2 separate regions of the Homo sapiens genome follow, and region 1 is linked to region 2. The links come from fine-mapping of genetic effects on gene expression. A gene starts in region 2. The other region holds a variant in brackets. All regions are shown on one strand. Distances are from middle to middle.

Region 1 (2,913 bases), 190 kb before region 2:
TGAGACTGGCCTTGCTGGCTGCATGGGAGCTAGGTGAGGCTTGTGACTGCCAGCTTTCCCAACTTCCCTAGCAACCTGTATGACACAGCAGAGGAAGCCATAATACCCCTGGGAACAGAACTCCACTGGCCTGAGAACCAGCCCCCTATTCCCCCACAGTGGCCACAGCAAGCCTCACCCGAGGAGAGTCTGAGCTCAGATATGCCTAATGCTGCCCCAACCTGATGGTCTTTCTCTACCTTTGCTGGTAGCTGAAGACAAAAGACATAAACTCTTGGGAGCTCTATGGCCCCGCCCATAACCTGAGAAACCCAAATACCCTGGCCAACGTAGGGCAACCTTGTAATCCCCCTTCTACTACCGCAGCTGGTGGCAGTGGAAGGGGAAAGCACCTCAAAAGTGCCACCTCCTCTCTTGAAAGTGCCACCTCCTGGCTGGAGACCAACCAACTCACGCCATTATAGCAACTCATAACAGAAGAACCCTGCTCCAAAGAAAGAGAAAACAACAACTAATTCCACTGCCTGCAACATCCTGGCTAACCAGAGGTCCTGAGTCTGTCCACATGACAACTTCACTGCTCGCATAACCAGCGTTTGAGAAAACCAGTGCACGAAAGAAAACTACAACCAAGGACCCTCACAGAATCCACTTAAGTCCCCTGCCACCTGCACTGGAGCAGGTGCTGGTATCCATGGCTGGGAGACCTGAAGACAGATCACATCACAGGACTCTTTGCAGACATTCCTCAGCACCAGTTCAGATCCCAGTAATTCTGCTGGGTGGATAGACCCAGAAGGGCAATGGCAATCACTGCAGTCTGGCTCTCAGGAAGCCCCATCCTTAGGGAAAGGGGGTGAGCACCACATCAAGGGATCACCCTGTGGGACAAAAGGATCTGAGGGGCAGCCCTTGAGTTCTAGATCTTTCCACTGAAACAGTCTACCTGAATGAGAAGGAACCAGAAATGTTAATTCTGGTAATATGACAAAACAAGGTTCTATAAGACCCCCAAAAGGTCGCACTAACTCTCCAGCTATGGATCCAAACCAAGAAGAAATCTCTGAATTGCCAGATAAAGAATTCAGAAGGTTGATTATTAAACTACTCAAGGAGGTACTAGAGAAAGGTGAAAATTAACTTAGAGAAATTTAAAAAACAATACAGGATATGGATGAAAAAGTCTCTAGATAAATAGATATCATAAAGAAAAAGACAATCGGCTGGGCGCAGTGGCTCACACCTGTAATCCCAGCACTTTGGGAGGCCAAGGCAAGGGGATCATCTGAGGTCAGGAGATAGAGACCAGCCTGACCAACATGGAGAAACCCTGTCTCTACTAAAAACACAAAATTAGCCGAGACCATTCTGGCCAACATGATGAAACCCCGTCTCTGCTAAAATA[CA/C]AAAAAAAAAAAAAAAAAATTAGCCAGGCGTGGAGGTACGCGCCTGTAATCCCAGCTACTTGGAGGCTGAGGCAGGGGAATCACTGGAACCCGGGTGGTGGAGGTTGCAGTGAGCCAAGATTGTGCCACTGCACTCCAGCCTGGTGACAGAGCGAGACTCTGTCTCAAAAAAAATAAATAAAATAAAAACTGTTACTTAAAAGGTGAACCAAAATCTTTTACTATCTCTACTTCATAAAAGCATTGTTTAAAAAGAGAAAATAAAATTTTACTCTTGTATTATTGTAATATTTATTAATATTAAAGCGAATTTTGATAAAACCTAAACAATTTTTTTCTTGAAAATCCTTTTTAACAACCAAGCATTTTTAGAGTTAAGCAGCCTGTGAAAAAGAACGCAAAATAAATAAATTTTAAAAATGAAATAAAAAAACAAAAAGCCAAGCACATGTGCCCTAATGGGAGGTGCCCTGGAGACCCCGGCCTTCTCTCCCTCTTGCTTGCTGGAGATTTCCTTGGGATCTGTGGGGTGGCGAGCATCTTGCAAACCCCGGCACATTCGGCGTTGGAGGCCCTGTTTTGAGGCTGGGCAGGCCTCAGAGAGCACAGCCAAGGGCACCTTTCTGCCTTTTCCAGAGATGGCTCCGGGCTCCCTGTTGGTGGACTTACCTGTCTGCATCAAAAGAAGAGATGGCAGTGGCATAGTTGAGGTTGTAGGCGAGGACAGTGGTGTAGTGATTGAACCCAAAAAAGTCATAGGTGCCGTTGATCCTCCTCTTCTCACTCTCTGTAAATTCTGGCAGCCTGGGTGGAAGAAGCCATTGAGGGCAGGGCTTCAGGGAGAGCCATGCTTTGAGAAGAGAACGTCATAGGGCTGGGGCGGGGGAGCTCTCCGAACCCCAGGCACTTGGCAGTGAGTAGGGGAAACTGGCAGGGAAGGAGAAGAGGTCCTTCAGGCGGTGCAGGAAGCACTGCGGCTCCTCCAGCCAGACCATAAACCTGGCTTCCCTAGGTCTCTACAAGAGCCTCTGAAACCTGAAGGACCACACACACACGCACCCACGCGCGCGCGCGCACACACACACACACACACACACATGCATAAACAGTTTTTAATTTCCTTCAAACAACATATGCAAATTCTGATATTTAGCATCTATGACAGATTTCAAAATCAAGAGCATGCCTGAGGTACATATCTGAGACTCTTCCCCTATGTTTGTAAAGTTAGATCTTGTATAATTTTTTTTTTTTGTGGCTGAGTCTGGCTCTGTCACCTAGGCTGGAGTGCAGTGGCGCGATCTCAGCTCACTGCAACCTCCGCCTCCTGGGTTCAAGTGATTCTCCTGCCTCAGCCTCCCAAGTAGCTGGGACTACAAGCGCCTGCCACAACTCCTGGCTGATTTTTTATATTTTTGGTAGAGATGGGGTTTCACCATGTTGGCCAGGCTGGTCTTGAACTCCTGACCTCAAGTGATCCGCCCACCTCAGCCTCCTAAAGTGTTGG
Region 2 (2,886 bases):
GAAGACCTAGGGTCCAATCTGTTAACAAAATATACTTATTAAATAGATAAGTGGCCTTTATTTCAATCTTACTTTACCTCTAAAATGATCTAAGATTCTTCTAGCTATAAAATGGCATAACTCTGCCACAATGTCTACCTTGTATCTAGACCTATACTATCTGTAAGGGTACACTGATAGTTTATGTAATTAAGCAGATTAAGAGTACACAAAAATAATTGCCCTAGTTTTTACAAGGTAACTTAAGATCTGTATGAAACAATTAAGTTTCTGTCACTTTACAGCTACCTGTTGGAATCCTCTCCTTTAGAGCAGGAGGGTGCTGGATTTTGTGTTTACACCAAAATAAAACCAGACATGTTTAAGGCGCTTACTGAACAATTTAAAGAAAAAGATAACCCTGGCCAGAGTAGAGAGATACAGTCACACAATGAAGCCTGAGGGCAACAGAAGGAGATTAAATTGTGTGAAGGACAAAAAAGTTGCATTCATAATTAGTACTATTAATATTTCAGTGACTCTTCCTCATTTAGTATTCTAAGATGACCTTACTTCTCATGTTGCTTACCACAAACTCAGAACTCCTTATAGAAAAATTAGGGAGCCAGACGGAAATTAAGGCTTAACAGTACTACAGCACACATAACTTGTAGGATGGTTTCAAACTTTGATTTCTGAAAAGCACCGAAGGATCACTGGGTGTTATGAATTATCCACGTGATTTGGGGTCACTTCACCTCAAATGCATTCTCGGTAACTCCTATTACCTACCTTACCGGGTCACTGAGAGGGAGAAAGTAAATAAAAATGACATGTGTTCTTTAAAGCTGTCACATGGGAAATGGTCATTAAACATATTGGCAGATGGTTTTGCTAAGTACTGTCATTACTTGCTAAAGCATTAGGAACACGAGGGCTGAGTACATATCGATTACTAGTGCTTATTAAAATTTTCCCAGGGATTGTGCATTACGTGCAGGACGTGCCTAACCCAGAGAGACTCAAGTGTGACGCCGCGCTCCTACTTCCGGGGCGGCTGGTTCTTCCCGTCCTCCCCACCCCGGGGACACGCTTCTAGTAGGCCAAACTCCCAGGTGACCCCCGCAAGAAACGCGGTCCGGAGAGGGTCTGGCCCCACTGCTGGGGCAAGGGCTCTAGGCGCCCGGACCCCACGCCCGCAGCCTGCGGAGAACGTGCCGACAAGGACCTGTAGGGCCCCACTCCCCCTCCTCCCTCCCTCGGCGCAGCCCGGCCCAGGGGTCTGTCCTCCCAGGCCCAGGAAAGGAGGAAACCCACTTCCGCCGCGTCCATGATCTCCCGCGGCTTCTCCTGACTCTTGCGGCTGGCGCTGGCGCTGGGCATCGGGACACGGAACTGGGCAGTGGACACCACCCTCCCTCGCAGGCTTCCGTAAGGCAGGCCAAAGGGGCTTCTCCCTCCCTCCCAGTCTCCGCCCTCCCGACCCTGGGGTCTCAGCACACGCGCTCGGACTCCGCGTGGAGGTGCGGCTCCAGAAAGATCGCGAGAGCTGCGGCTATCTCGAGATCCCGGAGCGCTGGCGGCCGCGCGCAGGGTCTCCTCCCACTCTTGCCCCGCCCCTCCGGGAGTTTTCCCGGAGTTGGAGGGAATTCCCGGGAATTCGCGGTAGTTTCGCTGGATTGGCTCTGGGGGCGGGGGCAGGGGTTACCAGGTGGCTGGCTGTAGACCTGGGCGAATGCCAGCTCTCTTCAGCTTCGTCCCAACTGCGACTTCTGCTCCATTCTTCTAACAGCCCTTTCAACTCCGCTCGGCTGTAACCGCAGACTCGTCACTAAAACACCCACCTAAGCGCGGGCCTTGGTTTCTCCTCTCTTGGACTTTCCCGCCTTCTCTCTTCCCCTGGGCGACGTAGCTGCTTGGGGACGGAGGAGGCCTCTTCGCAATCCATTGCCCTGCTTGTTGGGACAGAGGAGTGCAGTTGGCTTGCCAAGGCAGCATGGGTTACCAGTCCCTGTGTAAGTGAGGTGTAAATACAGTGGCAACGACAACAAGAAACGCATACAATTGCATTGATTGCCTGGATCTGTTGCAGTGTTAGGGACAGTGCATAGTGTTGGTTGCCCAATGGGCGAATATCCCCAAGTTAGGCTTTTTTAAAAAACTGATTTTTTAAAAAAGCTATCATTCATGAGTTTTGAATCGAAATTGAAAATAATTTGGAGATTTGGTTTAATACTGTTTCCCCTGCCAGAGTTTGCACTCCGTCGTTTCAACTGACTTGGTAGTGTCTTAGTCTGGCACAAAGTGTTAAGGGGTGCACATAGATCCCAGCGCAAGTGAAAGGCTCTCTCTGGAGGCTCCCCCATGGAGTAGTGAGAAGACAGCCATGGTCCTTGCTTGCCTGTAGCTTTCCTTCTAATTGCAGGTGGTATGAAATTTTATTCCCTATTTAATTGATCAAAGATTATTTACAAACATCTACTTTGTGCCAGGCATTCTATCAGGTGCTGGCAATAAAAAGATAAGTCCTAGTTCCTGTTCTTAATATTACACAGGTACCTAGGCTGATAGATGCGCCATCTTGATACATGCTTCCATTATTACAGAGTCAGGAAGAGAATTTAGCTCTTAAAATGGCTGCCTGGAAGTGACACATTTCACATTCTCCTAGTTTATTGGCGAGAACAAGTCACATCGTCATTCCTGAGTTCATGGGGGCAGGAGAATTTACTCATTCCTTGGGGAGCAACACTGAATATTCATGATCAGTATCACATTCCGTTAAAAAAGGCATCCCATTATACTCATGGGATTCGAATACAGAAGGGGGTCTGTGAAGTTGCTTCATCTTGGAATTTTTTTTAAAACTTGGATTGCCTCAATCAGGTATAGTCCTAATGTATGGAC

Alleles and levels. Positions count from the first base shown, and alleles are read on the strand shown. Sizes are in standard deviations (SD) of each study's normalised expression.
For the expression in monocytes after LPS of the gene that starts at base 1,520 in region 2, CA is the high allele of the variant in region 1 and C is the other (large effect, 0.85 SD a copy in Fairfax 2014).

The links. PIP is the estimated chance that this variant, and not a neighbour inherited with it, causes the effect.
Region 1: its variant is fine-mapped to the expression of DARS1 in monocytes after LPS (Fairfax 2014, PIP 0.95). The same link has a PIP of 0.9 or more in monocytes.

The regions. Positions count from the first base shown.
Region 1 is chr2:135,792,566-135,795,478 of GRCh38, forward strand. LCT (lactase) reads right to left here. Exons shown (of 17, transcript NM_002299.4): 14 at 2,076-2,210. Among named protein-coding and RNA genes, the nearest start is that of LCT-AS1, 26 kb to the right of the region's middle. The variant CA/C (reference allele first, on the strand shown) is at 1,406.
Region 2 is chr2:135,984,107-135,986,992 of GRCh38, forward strand. DARS1 (aspartyl-tRNA synthetase 1) reads right to left here and starts at 1,520. Exons shown (of 16, transcript NM_001349.4): 1 at 1,297-1,520. The coding sequence starts at 1,362. It overlaps DARS1-AS1 (DARS1 antisense RNA 1), which reads left to right and starts at 1,070. Exons shown (of 4, transcript NR_110199.1): 1 at 1,070-1,410. RefSeq lists a silencer at 1,157-1,216 and an enhancer at 1,267-1,366.